2 separate regions of the Homo sapiens genome follow, and region 2 is linked to region 1. A link means that fine-mapping ties the variant in region 1 to the expression of a gene that starts in the linked region. Tissue or cell type: adrenal gland. Region 1 holds a variant in brackets; the other region holds the start of a gene. All regions are shown on one strand. Distances are between the middles of the regions.

Region 1 (8,105 bases):
TGGACTATTAATTTTCGTCACCACTAAGCAGGCAACTCTCTTCCCTATCAGCATGAATAATATCTGTTTCCAGTTCAAAGATTGCAAAGGCAGCCGCCTGACCAGTGCCACAGACCCATGATACATGTGCCCTTGCTTAACTCTGCTGCTAGAGACCAAAGCCACGGTGCCTCCCTAGCAACTTGTTTCATCTTTAATTAGCAAGTGCTTTCTACCCTAGGTCACCAGCTGCACACACCACTCCCCAGAACCGCAACACCCATCTCTATTTTAGTAGAGAGGGTCTCAGGAATTTGATAGCAGGGAGTAGGGCAGAGGGAGTGGAAAACAGAAGGGATAGTACCCACCCACCTAAAATTAACATGCCAGTTATCTGAAACATCTGCTACCCCTCCAAGGGAGTGGGGCAAAAACCCCTCAAGCCCTGGGAAATGACTTCCCAAAAAGCTGGAGGTAGAGTAGATATTTGCATTGCAAATTGTAATAATACTGATGTCTTTTCCAAATAGCAGCCTCTCTAATATATTTGTGGGTTTATTTACTAGATCTTGGACTATTAGAACTAGAAGAGATCGGCTGGGCGCGGTGGCTCATGCCTGTAATCCCAATACTTTGGGAGGCCGAGGCAGGCTGATCACGAGGTCAGGAGATCGAGACCATCCTGGCTAACACGGTGAAACCCCGTCTCTACTAAAAAATACGAAAACTTAGCCGGCCGTGGTGGTGGGTAGTCCCAGCTACTCGGGAGGCTGAGGCAGGAGAATGGCGTGAACCCGGGAGGTGGAGCTTGCAGTGAGCTGAGATCACGCCACTGCACTGTAGTGTGGGTGACAGAGCGAGACTCCGTCTCAAAAAAAAAAAAAAAAAAAGAACTAGAAGAGATCTTAATGTTTCATTGGCCTTTATTTTCCAGATGAGGTTTAACTAACTCAGGGAGCATGGCAGAAGGCAGAGGAACAGAGAAGCTGATGTGTTAGGCGTACACTGAAAATCTATCTTGATGAAGAGAGCAGCTCAGAAATCTTAGGGGATGTCAGTAGGAAATCATAGTTGATCTGCAAAAATTTAATTTACATGAAACTTCTCAGAAACATGCTCCTTGGGCGAAGCCAAATGCTGGTGTATCCTTGGGCTCTCAATGGAGTTTGCCCCGGGGGCTTATGGATTCAGAAAAATCCATGAGTGCAAAACAGTTGAGAAGCAGATGTGTGGAATATGGGAAGTAAAGTCCCTCAGGCGTCCATAACCCTCGGTCATGGAGGGAATGGGGAACATTCTTTTTTTTTTCTTTCTTTCTTTTTTTTTGAGACGGAGTCCCATCTGTTGCCTAGGCTGGAGTGCAGTGTGGTGTGATCTCGGCTCACTGCAACCTCCGCCTCTCTGGTTCAAGTGATTCTCATGCCTCAGCCTCCTGAGTAGCTGGGATTACAGACGTGCACCACCATTCTCAGCTAAATTTTGTATTTTTAGTAGAGACGGGGTTTTACCATGTTGGCCAGGCTGGTCTCGAACTCCTGGCCCCAAGTGATCCACCCACCTTGGCCTCCCACCACACCCGGTGGTGTGAGCCACCACACACGGCTGGAACATTCTTGGGGTTCCAGATATAGAATGTAAATTTCCTTTCCTCCAAAGACCTGTGCTGATATCATCATGATTCTCAATGAGAAACCTATGAAAGAGAGAGAGCTCCTTTCTCTCTGTTTGCATGTGAATGTGTGTGCAAGAATGGATGTTTGAGTGGTATGTATGTGTACCAGACATCACTGTCTGGTTGTGTGTATAATGTGTATGTGTCTGTGTGTATGTACTCTGCCAAACATCACTTTCCCCTTCCCAAATGTCAGACCTTTACATGAGATCTCATTTTGGATCCCTTTTCCTTAGACTATGGAACAAGTCATATTTGGTAAACACTTTAAAAATTATTTCCTAGTACTTTGGAATTACCCCCACCTTCCCACCCCCCTCCCCCGCCAATCCTGCAGTAAGACCTGATGTATCCAGTTAAAAAAAGAACTTACAATCTTATTTTGAGAGCTTACTGAGCTTGGAAGAGTAGAAAGTGGTAGAACCAAGTTGACACCAGGGCTTCTAAAAATGACTAAGGAGAAAGGGGTGGGCAGGGAGCAGGAAGAAATCTGTAGGCCTGAGTGGAAGCAGGAAACCTGCCTAAACTCAAGCTGGAATGGCTTAATTGGAGCCTGAGAGTCAAGCATGGGCTTTGAAGTGTGACGAGAAAAAAATTTCCATTACACATTTTATTGATACTGAGATTAAAAGAATGCCACATCCTGTAAAAGACTTAAGGTATTACCATATGGAGACACATGAGGGCGCTCTGACCAACTAGCAACTGAGAAAAGTAGAAAGGCTGTGTCTGTTTCAACCTGTAGGCAACGAAAGAGGCATGGCAGGCCCTTTGTTTAATTTTTTTTTTTTTTAGGACAGGGTCTCGCTATGTTGCCCAGGCTGGTCTTGAACTCCTAGGGTCAAGCGATCCTCCCACCTCAGCCTCCCAAAGTGCTGGGATTACAGGCATGAGCTACCGCGCCCAGCAACAGGCCCTTTTGTTTTGTTTTGTTTTGTTTTGTTTTGAGACAGTCTCACTCTGTCACCCAGGCTGGAATGCAGTGGCACGATCTCGGCTCACTGCAACCTCTGCCTCCCAGGTTCAAGCGATTCTCTTGCCTCAGACTCCCGAGTAGCTGGGATTACAGGTGTGTACCACCACACCCAGCTAATTTTTGTATTTTTAGTAGAGATGTCATTCCCCTGTGTTGGCCAGGCTGGTCTTGAACTCCTGGCCTCAAGTGATCCACCCACCTCTGCCTCCCAAAGTGCTGGGGTTACAGGCGTGAGCTACTGCGCCCAGCAATAAGCCCTTTGTTTATATGAATTCAGGCTTCTACCCTGGAGCAGGTCATTGGCCCTTAAGTAGTTGCTGGGAAGAAGGTACTAGCCCTAGGGGTGAGGGGGCTGGCCTCATCTTGAAAGGAATGTGAACCATCAGGAGAGAGGGGGAGGCCAGTGAGCAGTACAAAGTGGTTCCTTCCTTACTTTATCAGTTGGCTTCTGTCATACGTAAGGCTTGGAATAATAAACTCTTAGTTTTCAGAGTGCTTTCATATTTTTAATTATCTCTTGACCCAGACAGCAAGCTTGTGAGATATGTAGAGAAGACAGTATTTATATGCAATTCACACACAAGGCTGAGGGAGGTTAAGTGGCCTGCCCAGGGTCACGCGTCTCGAAAGTGGTAGAGCAGGGTCCGTGCTCATGCCTCTGTTTGATGCTGCCATACTGTACATTTGGGTACGGCTGACAGGAACAGCTCTTAATAAAATTGTGCAGTGGGTAAATGTTGTCCTTGGCGCCTTCAGCCATCTATTTCTGACATCCAGGCATCCTGTACCCCAGATCACCTAACGTAGCACTCTGTAATAACAGTGATTACAGCTGCCTACTGTTCATTAAGCACTTAGGTGGCTGGTGACTTAGGTCCTGTGCCAAGCATTAAATATGCATTTTCATACATGAATGGTCACAGCAGAACTATTTACAATAGCCAAAAGGTAGAAACAATCCCGATATCCATAGTATATCCATACCATGGAATGTTATTTGGCCATACAAAGGAATGAAATAGGCCAGGCACAGTGGCTCACGCCTGTAATCCCAGCACTTTGGGAGGCTGAGTCGGGCAGATCACCTAAGATCAGGAGTTCGAGACCAGCCTGGCCAACATGGTAAAACCCTGTCTTTACTGAAAAAAGAAAATACAAAAATTGCCAGATGCAGTGGCTCACACCGGTAATCCCAGCACTTTGGGATGCCGAGGTGGGTGGATCACCTGAGGTCAGGAGTTTGAGACCAGCCTGACCAATATGGTAAAACACCATCTCTACTAAAACTACAAAAATTATCCGGGCATGGTGGTGCGTGCCTGCAGTCCCAGCTATGCTGGAGGCTGAGACAGGAGAATTGCTTGAACCTGGGAGGTGAAGGTTGCAGTGAGCCAAGATTGTGCCACTGCACTCCAGCCTGGGAGACAGAACGAGACTCCATCTCAAAAACAACAACAACAACAAACCCCAAAAATTAGCTGGGCGTGGTGGTGGGCGCCTGTAATCCCACTTACTTGGGAGGCTGAGTCATGAGAATCGCTTGAACCCTGGAGGCGGAGGTTGCAGTGAGCCAAGATTGCGCCACTGCCCTCCAGCCTGGGTGATAAAGCGAGACTCAGTCTCGGAAAAAAAAAAAAAAGGCCGGGCGCGGTGGCTCACGCCTGTAATCCCAGCACTTTGGGAGGCCAAGGAGGGCGGATCACGAGGTCAGGAGATCAAGACCATCCTGGCTAACACGGTGAAACCCC[G/A]TCTCTACTAAAAATACAAAAAATTAGCTGGGCATAGTGGCGGGCACCTGTAGTCCCAGCTACTCCGGAGGCTGAAGCAGGAGAATGGCGTGAACCGGGAAGGCGGAGCTTGCAGTGGGCCGAGATCGCGCCACTGCACGCCAGCCTGGGCGACAGAGCAAGACTCCGTCTCAAAAAAAATAAATAAATAAAAAATAAGGAACGAAATAACTGACACATGCTACAACATGGAGGAATGTGAAAAATACTATGCTAAGTGAAAGAACCAGACACAAAAGACTCTTCTGATTCCTACAGGAGATGTCCAGACGAGGCAAATCCATACAAACAGAAAGTAGGTCAGTGGTTGTCAAGGCAGGCATGAGGGAAGAGGGAGAATAGAGAATGATTGCTAATGGGTATGGGTTTCTTTGGGGGTGTTGAAAATATTCTGGAATTAGATAGTGGTGATGAGAGGTGACAGCGTGCTGGCAGTCCTCAGAGCCCTCGCTTGCTCTCGGCGCCTCCTCTGCTTGGGTTCCCACTTTGGCGGCACTTGAGGAGTCCTTCCGCCCGCCGCTGCACTGAGGGAGCCCCTTTCTGGGCTGGCCAAGACCAGAACCAGGTCCCTCAGCTTGCAGGGAGGTGTGGAGGGAGAGGCGCGAGCAGGAACCGGGGCTGCGCGCAGCGCTTGCGGGCCAGCTGGAGTTCTGGGTGGGCGTGGGCTTGGCGGGCCCCGCACTCGGAGCAGCCGGCCGGCCCTGCCGGCCCCGGGCAATGAGGGACTTAGCACCCAGGCCAGTGGCCAGTGGCTGTGGAGGGTGTACTGGGTCCCCCAGCAGTGCCGGCCCACCGGCGCTGTGCTGGATTTCTCGCTGGGCCTTAGCTGCCTTCCCGCGGGGCAGGGCTCGGGACCTGCAGCCCGCCATGCCTGAGCCTCCCACCCACTCCATGGGCTCCTGTGCGGCCCCAGCCTCCCCGACGAGCACCACCCCCTGCTCCACGGCGCCCAGTCCCATCGACCGCCCAAGGGCTGAGAAGTGCAAGCACACGGCACGGGACTGGCAGGCAGCTCCACCTGCGGCCCCAGTGCGGGATCCACTAGGTGAAGCCAGCTGGGCTCCTGAGTCTGGTGGGGAAGTGGAGAGTCTTTATGTCTAGCTGAGGGATTGTAAATACACTAATCAGCACCCTGTGTTTAGCTCAAGGTTTGTGAGTGCACCAATCGACACTCTGTATCTAGCTGCTCTGGTGGGGCCTTGGAGAACCTTTATGTCTAGCTCAGGGATTGTAAATACACCAATCGGCACTCTGTATCTAGCTCAAGGTTTGTAAACACACCAATCAGCACCCTGTGTTTAGCTCAAGGTTTTGAATGCACCAATCGACACTCTGTATCTAGCTGCTCTGGTGGGGCCTTGGAGAACCTGTGTGTCAAAACTCTGTATCTAACTAATCTGATGGGGACGTGGAGAACCTTTGTATCTAGCTCAGGGATTGTAAACGCACCAATCAGCGCCCTGACCAAACAGGCCACTGGGCTCTACCAATCAGCAGGATGTGGGTGGGGCCAGATAAGAGAATAAAAGCAGGCTGCCCGAAGCAGCATTGACAACCCGCTCCCGTCCCTTACCACACTGTGGAAGCTTTGTTCTTTCACTCTTTGCAATAAATCTTGCTAATGCTTACTCTTTAGGTCCACGCTGCTTTTATGAGCTGTAACACTTAACCGCCAAAATCTGCAGCTTCACGCCTGAGCCCAGTGAGACTACGAGCCCACTGGGAGGAATGAACAACTCCCCACGCGCTGCCGTAAGAGCTGTAACACTCACCGGGAAGGTCTGCAGCTTCACTCTTGAGCAAGTGAGACCACGAACCCACCAGAAGAAAAAAACTCCAAACACATCTGAACATCAGAAGGGACAGACTCCAGACGCGCCACCTTAAGAGCTGTAACACTCACCGCGAGGGTCCGCGGCTTCCTTCTTGAAGTCAGTGAGACCAAAAACCCACCAATTCCAGACACGGTGATGGTTGCACAGCCTTGTGAATATACTAAAAAGCACTGAAATATACACTTTAAAGTGGTGAGTTGCTGGGCGCAGTGGCTCATGGCTGTAATCCAAGCACGGTGGGAGGCCGAGGTGGGCAGATCACCTGAGCTCAGGAGTTCAAGACCAGCCTGGCCAACTTGATGAAACCCCATCTCTACTAAAAATACAAAATTAGCCGGGCTTGGTGGTGCATGCCTGTAATCCCAGCTGCGCAGGAGGCTGAGGCAGGAAAATCGCTTGAACCTGGGAAGTGGAAGTTGCAGTGAGCCGAGATCACACCATTACACCCCAGCCTGCCCAACGAAAGCTAAACTTCGTTTAAAAAAAAAAGTGAATTGTATGGTATGTGAATTATAGCTCAGTAAAGCTGTTGCCATAAAGTGCATTATGTCCCTTAATCTTTACAACAACTCTAAGAGACTAATGAGAATCTGAGGCCCAATGAAGTTAATTGACCACGTTCACACAGCTAGTAATTGGCAGGAAACCCATCCAGCTTCAACTGATTCCAAGGCTCATACTTTTAACCATCATGTTACACTGGGTCTAATGCATCCCTCATTTACATAGAGGATGTTGTAAAAGCCAACACTCATTGAGGCCTTAATATGTGCCAAACACTATGCTAATCACATCACATTCATGATGCTTAACATTATGGTAGATATTAAAGCAATAATCTCCAATTTTTTTTTTTTTGAGATGGGAATCTGGCTGTGTCACCCAGGCTGGAGTGCAGTGGCACCATCATAGCTCACTGCAGCTTCTAACTCCTGGGCTCAAACCATCCTCCCACCTCAGCCTCCTGAGTAGCTGGGAGTACAGGCATGTGCCACCATGCCCAGCTAATTGTTTGTTTTTTGAGACAGAATTTCGCTCTTGTTGCCCAGGCTGGAGTGCCATGATGCCATCTTGGCTCACTGCAACCTCCACCTTCCGGGTTCAAGCGATTCTCCTGCCTCAGCCTCCCGAGTAGCTGGGATTACAGGTGCCCACCACCACGCCCAGCTAATTTTTTTGATTTTTAGTAGAGGCAGGGTTTCGCCATGTTGTCTCAAACTCCTGACCTCAGGAGATTCGCCTGCCTTGGCCTCCCAAAGTGCTGGGATTACAGGCGTGAGCCACTGCACCCAGTCCCAGCTAATTTTTTAAAAATTGTTTTAGAGATGGGATCTCACCATATTGCCAAGGCTGGTGTCCCAACGTTTTAAATTGCATGCCCCTATAATAAAAATATTTTGAGCAGATATTCTCAACATTCGTGAATATTTTGCAATTTCAAAATGATGTGTGTGTATTACTCTATGAAATATGTATATTATAAAGCATACACAAAAAGGAAATTTTAAAAGGATGAGACAAAGATAAAATATAGTTTAAAATAATTTACAGTTTTATAATGCTTGTAGTACAAAACTATTTGGATATTCATTAAAATTTTATTATTAATTTTTTCACAAGAGAATGTGATTGCATATGCTTCGTTTTTAAAACATCTTTTTTTTTTTCTTTTTTTGAGACAGGGTCTCACTCTGTTCCCCAGGCTGGAGTGCAGTGTTAAGAATACAGCTCACTGCAACCTCAACCTCCTGGGCTCAAGTGATCCTCACCCCCAGGCCCCCAAGTATCTGGGACTACAGGCGTGTGTCACCATGCCAGGCTAATTTTTGTATTTTTTGTAGAGATGAGTTTCACCA
Region 2 (8,105 bases), 100 kb before region 1:
GTACCTACTAAAGTTGAGCATATGCTTACTCTGTGATCCAGCAATTCCACTCCTAGGTATGTATCTGACATGAATCATCAAACAATATGCACTAAAATCCCAGCAGCACTATTTGTATTAGCCCCTAAGAGTGGGATAAATTGCAGCAGACTCATACAATGGAATATTATGTAACAGTGAAAAGGAATAATCCACAGCTACATATAACATAAATAAGCTGGGCGTGGTGGCTCAAGCCTGTAATCCCAGCACTTTGGGAGGCCGAGGCGGGCGGATCACGAGGTCAGGAGTTCAAGACCAGCTTGGCCAATGTTAGAAACAAAATGCTTGTTCCTCGGTGCCACAAAGAAATAGCACTCGAACATAAATTTAATTTTCACAGCAAGACAATTTTTACTTCTATAGAAGGGTGCGACTCGTGAATGGAGTAATGGCAAGAGCACACCTGAACAAGGGAGGGGAAGGGGTTCTTATTCCTGACACAGGTAGCCCCTACTGCTGTGTCGCTCCCCTATTGGCTAGGGTTGGACTGCACAGTCTAAGCTAATTCTGATTGGCTACTTTAAAGAGACCAGGGGTATGAGCCAGAGTGGCGGGGTGAATAGTTTGGTGGGAAGGACGGTTAGGAACAGGTAACTAAAGGTGACTTAGGTCAGAGCAGGGACCAGGGGTGACTCAGGTCAAAGCGGATGACCGGGGTGAGTCAGGACGGAGCAGGTAACCAGGGGAACAGATGTGAACTACTGATGAAAACTGGTGGAAAATGTTGTTTACTGAAACTACGAGGAAGTTAAACTTTACAATGGAGGACAAAGAACTGAACATACTGACATACTGATTCTTTGAAGAGAGATCTAGATCTCACTGTATCCAACAGCCAATATGGTGAAACCCCATTTCTACTAAAAATACAAAAATTAGCCGGGCGTGGTGGCACACGCCTGTACTCCCAGCTACTCGGGAGGCTGAGGCAGAAGAATCGCTTGAACCCGGGAGGTGGAGGTTGCAGTGAGCCAAGATGTAAGCCAAGATGGCGCCACTGCACCTCAGCCTGGGCGACAGAGCGAGATTCCGTCTCTAAATAAATAAATAAAGAAATCTCAGTCATAAATGTTGAGAGAAAGGAGCCTAACATAAAAGAATACATGCTGTATGATTCAATTTACATAAAGTTCAAAACAGACAAACTCAATAGTATTAGAAGTCATTCATAAAAGGATGTAGCTGCTAAAAAAGAAAAAGCAAAAAGGATAGTGGTATTCTTGGTGGCGAAAATGACTGGGAACAAGTAGGAAGAGAGCATCTGGAGTGCTGGCAATGTTTTGTTTCTTGATCTACATGCTGGTTACATAAGTGTGTTCACTTTGTGAAAATTCAGCAAGCTGGATGCTTACTTTTAGTGCACTTGTCTGTACATCTGTTATACTGCAATTAAAAGTTTCATCAAAAAGGAAGTCTACAGTATGTGTTAGGTAGAATAATATCTCCCCCAAAGTTGTACACATCCTAATCCCCAGAACCCATGACTGTGTTAGGTTATATAGCAAAAGGAAATTAATGTTGCTAATCAGCTGTCCTTAAAATAGGGAGATTATCCTGGATTTTACAGGCGGACACAATGTAAACACAGGAGTCCTTCAAAGTGAAAGGGGAAAGTGCAGAGGCCAGGAGTTGGAGACCAGCCTGGGCAACACAGTGAGACCCCTTCTCTACAAAAATGAAAATAAATTAGCTGGGCATGGTGGCATGCACCTGTAGTCCCAGCTATTTGGGAGGCTAAGGCAGGAGGATCACTTCAGCTCAGGAGTTTAAGCCTTCAGTGAACTGTGACCCTGAAAAAAAAACTTGGAATGGCAAGGCAGAGAATAAAAGAGATATAGACAATAGACAGAAGTAGGGGCAGGGTCAGAGAGAGATGCTTGAAGACGAAGGGTTCATAAGCCAAGGAATATGGGCCGCCTCAAGAATCTGAAAAAGACAAGGAAATCTATTATCTCCTAGAGCCTCCAGGAAGGAACTCAGTCCTGCCAACACCTTGATTTTAGCCCAGTGAGACCCATATTGGACTGTTTGTTTATTTATTATTACTATATTTTTTTGCCCCCTCACAGGACAAAGCTAAAACCTTGTTGGACTTTTAACCTACAGAACTGTAAGATAATACACTTGCATTATTTAAACCCACTAAATTTGTGGTAATGTTACAGCAGGAATAGGAGGCTAATACAGTTGGTGTGGGGGAAGATCAAGTGTTCAGTTTTGGATGCATTCGGTGGCTGAACACGTTAGACGTCTTAAGTGGAGATGTTCAATAGGCAGTTGGATACATGACTCTGGAAATCATCAGGGAGGTATGGGCTGGAGATGTAAATTCTTTTTTTGTTTTGTTTTGGTTTTGAGACGGAGTCTCGCTCTGTCGCCCAGACTGGAGTGCACTGGCACAATCTCGGCTCACTGCAACCTCGACCTCCTGGGTTCAAGCGAATCACCTGCCTCAGCCTCCTGAGTAGCTGGGATTATAGCTGCCTGCCACCACGCCCGGCTAATTTTTTTGTATTTTTAGTAGAGACGGGATGTCACATGTTGGCCAGGCTGGTCTCGAACTCCCGACCTCAGGTGATCCACCCGCCTCGGCCTCCCAAAGTGCTGAGATTACAGCTGTGAGCCACCACGCCCGGCCTGGACATGTAAATTCTAGAGTAGAGTTGTCAGCAAAGACAGAAAAGCCAAAAGAATGAATGAGATTAATAAAGGAGTGAGTGTACATAGAAAAGAGGTCTAAGGACTGAGCCCTGGGACACTTTATTCTGGCAACTGACAAACAGCTGGTGGTTTAAAGCTAGTGAGGACACCAAAACAGAGGCATACACTACCAACATGCAAGTGCAGAGCTAAGCAGTAGGTCAGAGGCAGATGCATAAACAAGGCTCATAAGAACGGCCAGGTACTGAAAGCAAGAGTAACAGATGTCAAATACAGGGAAACCGTTTTAGCCACAGGAATAGGAATCCAAGAATAGGCTGGACAATTGGAGTGAGAAAATTTAAGTGCAGAGTCAGGGGAATATATTCTAGAGGTCGGCAAAAATGGGAGTTGGCCCTTAGGCAGCTTTCTGCCTTGGGCTCCTATTGCATCTTTAATTTGGTTTCTGTCCTCTATGGGTGTCTGTGTCTCTCTCTCTTTTTGAGATGGAGTCTCACTCTGTCACCCAGGTTGGAGTGCGGTGGCACAACCTCGGCTCACTGCAACCTCCGCCTCCCAGGTTCAAGTGACTCTCCTGCCTCAGCCTCCCAAATAGCTGGGACTACAGGCGCCTGCCACCATGCCCAGATAATTTTTGTATTTTAGTAGAGACAGGGTTTCACCAAGTTGGCCAGGCTGGTGTCGAACTCCTGATCTCAGGTGATCCGCCGGCCTCGGCCTCTCAAAGTGCTGGGATTACAGGAATGTGCCACCACGCCCTGCTAATTTTTTTTGTTTTTAGTAGAGACAGGGTTTCGCCAAGTTAGCCAGGCTGGTCTCGAACTCCTGACCTCAGGTGATCCACCCACCTTGGCCTCCTAAAGTGCTGGGATTACAGGCGTGAGCCACCACGCCTGGCCGACTGATCTGCTTTCTATCACTGTGGTTTTATTTTTCTAAAATTTCATATAAATGGAATTGTACAACATGTACTCTGTGTCTAGATTCTGTCACTCAACATAATCACTGTTAGATTCACATTTGGATTGTTTCCAGTTTGGAGTTATTATAAATAATGTAAAATTGGCCCTTTTTAAGTGAAGATGGTGATCGCAACTAAATCAAGTTGGGTTTTATTTTTATTCCCCTCCCTGTGGGACATCAGTACCTGGGGAGAAGGATCCTTTTGCTAAAATAAGGTGATGAAAACAAATCTTGTATATTTTAGTCATATTACTCCTTTAAATATCAGTATCTTGTGTTTATTTATTATTATCCTTCTTTTTTATATACAGGGTCTCGCTCTGTCGCCCAAGCTGGAGTGCAGCGGCGCGATCATGGCTCACTGCAGCCTCGAATTCCTGGGCTCAAGATCCTCTCTTCTCAACCTTCCCGAGCAGCTGGGACTACAGGCGTGCGCCACTGAACTCGGCTAATATTGTAGTATTTACTAAGTATCTGTAAATCCTAATCAATATAAGGAAAATAAAGTTTTTTAAATGTTAGGCTTTTTCTTTTAGTTGTAGGAAAATAAATGCTAAAGCCTCTGAATTCAATGATAAAAAATACAAGTCGCTCCCCTAGTGAGGCAAAATTTGGACGGCATTGAGTTTATCTGATGGAAACTAAGCGTGAAGAACCTATCTTTCGACCTGGAAAACTCTGAAGATGAAAGGATTCGATTTACTCACAAACAGGGACCCTGAGATAGCTCTGGCCCCTGAACGCCCAACAAAAGCGGGTAGCTGCTTTGTATGCCGGGATTTGTAGTCCCCGACAGAGTCACTTCAAGATGGCGGAATTGCTAATGACGCGCGAAGGGGCGGGCCCCGAGGGAGTCTGGGCCGCGAGGGGATTGGGTGGCGCAGGAACTTGGCGGGCGGGAAGTAAAAACCAGGTGTTAAAACCTTTGCACTGGGAAAGGCCCAAGTCTCGCGAGAGCTTGGCAGGACCCAATGGAACGTGGGGCCCGACTTATCACAAGGGGCATTTGTTGGGGGCGGAGCTTTGACGGGAGCTTCCCGGGAGCCGTTTGTGCCCGGGGTAACCCCGTTCCGGCCAAGCCGCTTCAGCGGGGGACGTAGCCATGAAGGAAGAGAAGGAGCACAGGCCTAAGGAGAAGCGAGTAACCCTGTTAACCCCCGCCGGGGCCACAGGCAGCGGTGGTGGGACCTCGGGGGACAGCTCCAAGGGGGAAGATAAGCAGGATCGCAACAAGGAGAAGAAAGAAGCGCTGAGCAAGGTGCCCGGTCGGCCGCTGGCCCGGGAGAGGGCGGGACGAGTCCGCAGCGCGGGGAGGATGGCTGGGAATGGGGCTGCCCCCTTTCTTTCTCAGGTTCTCCTTCTATCTCTTCGCCTGAATGGAAGTCGCATCATCCTGGTTCATCCATTCACCCGAAATGGGGAGAGCCCCTCCCGGCCAAATCCTGGGTGGGGGTGAGGAAAAGAGGGGACTCCCCAAACGGGAAGGGTTTAGGTCAGAGCTGTGAGATGATAATGGGAGGGAAGAGCGACGGTATAAAGAATGAGGAACTAAAGGTGTAATTGGGGAGAAATATTAAATAGTGAAGGAGACATGAGGGATGGGAATATTATTCATGGAGGCGAGTTGGGGGAGAGTGCAGGGTGATTAATGGTACAGGAGGGTAGATCGAGAGCATCCTATTTTGAGAGCAATGGGTAGATTTTTTGTATTCGTTAGAGTTTTGAATTCTTAAGTTCAATGGGCAAGGATTTTGTTTTAAGATGTGTTGGACGTGGGAGAAACTTGTTGCTAAATCAAGATTTCGTGGCACCCACAAAGACCAGCGTTGGCTTACTAAGTTATTGCCACTAGATCTGTTAAAAAATGGGTGATCGAAAATGATGCACAAACCTGGTAAACTGCAGGGCTGCTGTAAAGAGCAAAACCTGCGATTTTTCCTTGCTCCAGGTGGTTCTCATTTCCAAGGGTTTTTTTAAACCGCGTTACTATTATGTTTGACTAATTCTGAGCATTGGGCTGCAGAAGAATATTTTCTCCTGGGTTTTTACAAGTGATCTCATATTTTAAAGCCCAGCCTTCTTCAGGAACTGTGATTCTTTCAGGTATGACAGAAAACTGATTTGTACTAATTTTATTTTCCTTATGCATTTCTTAAGGTGGTAATTCGAAGATTACCTCCCACTTTGACCAAGGAGCAGCTTCAGGAACATCTTCAACCTATGCCTGAGCATGATTATTTTGAGTTTTTTTCTAATGATACGAGGTAAAAAAAAAAAAAAAAGGAAAGGGGTAAATGAAAAAGGTTTCTTTCATTCTTTTTATCCTACTGTTTTTCATTTGATTTTTGAGCTTGTCTTTAATATATGCATACTTGTAATTGGGCCAGACACCTGCGAGTACATTTACATAATTGCTTTCCTCTCTGCAGTTTGTATCCTCATATGTATGCCAGAGCATACATCAACTTTAAAAACCAAGAGGACATTATTTTGTTCAGGGATCGCTTTGATGGTTATGTATTCCTTGACAATAAAGGTGAGTCCTGGTAACTGAAGTAAAAAGGGAATTTCTTTGTCATTTGTATGTTTAAGACAACTCGTGCATTGCGTTGCTTCCTAGAGTTTTACACATTTAATAAGCTTATTGCAGTCTTATAAATAGACGTGACTTTTCACAGTCCTTGGTTATTTTTATTAACCTACTATTTTTTTAGTTTGATCAACTGAGTGAAATTGCAACTGTTTTCTCCTCGTGTGACACATTTTTTGCCCTGGCTTAAACCTGCTGTTTTGACTGTAGAATTTCAGCCGCAGTACTGATAAGTGACTCTTAAACTTGTTTGATAAGTTTTAAATATTTACTTCTTATTTTGCTTCGAGGACAAACATTTATTTAATTCAAATCCATTAAGCCAACAGTTCCCAATTGGGATACTGTTTAACATTCTCACAAAGTTGTATATAATTAAAACATGAAACTTGATACATCTCGGCCTGGTGTGGTGGCTCACGCCTGTTATCCCAGCACTTTGGGATGCCGAGGCAGGTGGATCACGAGGTCAGGAGATCGAGACCAGCCTGGCCAACGTGGTGAAACCCCATCTCTACTAAAAATGCTAAAAAAATTAGCCAGGCGTGGCGGTCCACGCCTGTAATCCCAGCTACTTGGGAGGCTGAGGCAGAAGAATCGCTTGAACCTGGGAGGCAGAGGTTGCAGTGAGCTGAGATCACGCCACTGCACTCCAGCCTGGCGACAGAGCGAGACTCTGTCTCAAAATCGAAAAAAAGAAACTTGATACATCTCTTACTTTATATCCAGAAAGGTCCAGTCTATAGGGAAGACACATTTCTACTTTAACACTCTATTATCTGCTACCTACATTTAGCCAGAGAATATCTAAGCTGCCATTTGCCACTTTTCTTTTTGGTTTGCAATTATAGGTAAATAGTGTGTCTTCTTGTTTTGTTTTGTTTTTTTCAATATTACTTCAAAGTTGGTAAAAATTAAATTTTTGTCAGGGACTATGCCAGTAAAAATTGAAGGATTGCCACTGTTTGTCCAACTTTTATTAATCTCCCCAAGCCAGCTATTTTTCCACTCCAACTATTTTATTCCAGTAGATATTTAACTAGATTCTAGTTACTTAGCCTGGAAATCTGAGTTGTGTTTAATTTTTTCCTTTTTTAAAAATCTCTTACATGTAAGTTATGAATCTTGTCAATTTATTGTTTATCTTTTGAGATAGGGTCTCCACCCAGGCTGGAGTGCTGTGGCGCAATCAGAGCTCACTGCAGCCTGGAATTCCTGGACTCAAGCAATCCTCCCACCTCAGCCTCCTGAGTAGCTGGGACTACAGATGTATGTCACCATGCCTGGCTAATTTTCTTTAAATTTTTTATAGAGATGGGGTCTCACTACGTTGCCCAGGCTGGTCTTGAACTCCTGGGCTCAAGTGATTTCCCCCCCCCCACCTCAGCCTCCCAAAGTGCTGGGATTACAGGTGCGAGCCACCATACCCAGCTCAACACCACTTATTAAAGAGACTATCCTTTCCTCATTGTGTTTTTTGTTTGTTTGTTTGTTTTGTTTTGTTTTTAAATCTTAGAGACAAGGTCTGCTTATGTTGCCCAGGCTGGATTTTATTGTTTTTTTTTAATATCTTGTTCACCTAGCCTTAAACAGTCACACTTTATGTCCTCATCACTTAATGCCTAGACAACCACTGTCTCTAAACTTACAGGATTTTCCATTTTTTTCATTCTTGTATAATTCAGTCTATTATATTGCCATGAAATTAATCTTTTTGAAAATAATGATTTAAATTAACAGTTGGGGGAAAAAGTCCAAACTCCTTAGCCTGGTAGTCAGGGTCCTCCATATTCTGGCCTCACTTCTGTTTCTTCAGCCTGTCTTCCACAATTTCCCTCTGTTTCAGTCT

Alleles and levels. Alleles are on the strand shown, and positions count from the first base shown. SD is a standard deviation of normalised expression in the study named.
For the expression in adrenal gland of the gene that starts at base 4,734 in region 2, A is the high allele of the variant in region 1 and G is the other (small effect, 0.38 SD a copy in GTEx).

Evidence for each region. PIP is the estimated chance that this variant, and not a neighbour inherited with it, causes the effect.
Region 2: it holds the start of UPF3B, and the variant in region 1 is fine-mapped to the expression of UPF3B in adrenal gland (GTEx, PIP 0.98). The same link has a PIP of 0.9 or more in skeletal muscle.

What each region holds. Positions count from the first base shown.
Region 1 is chrX:119,748,114-119,756,218 of GRCh38, reverse strand. No RefSeq gene overlaps it. Among named protein-coding and RNA genes, the nearest start is that of SOWAHD, 6.4 kb to the left of the region's middle. RefSeq lists enhancers at 1-37, 48-107. The variant G/A (reference allele first, on the strand shown) is at 4,376.
Region 2 is chrX:119,849,592-119,857,696 of GRCh38, reverse strand. It overlaps UPF3B (UPF3B regulator of nonsense mediated mRNA decay), which reads left to right and starts at 4,734. Exons shown (of 11, transcript NM_080632.3): 1 at 4,734-4,924; 2 at 5,824-5,930; 3 at 6,096-6,202. The coding sequence starts at 4,769. RefSeq lists an enhancer at 4,700-4,759.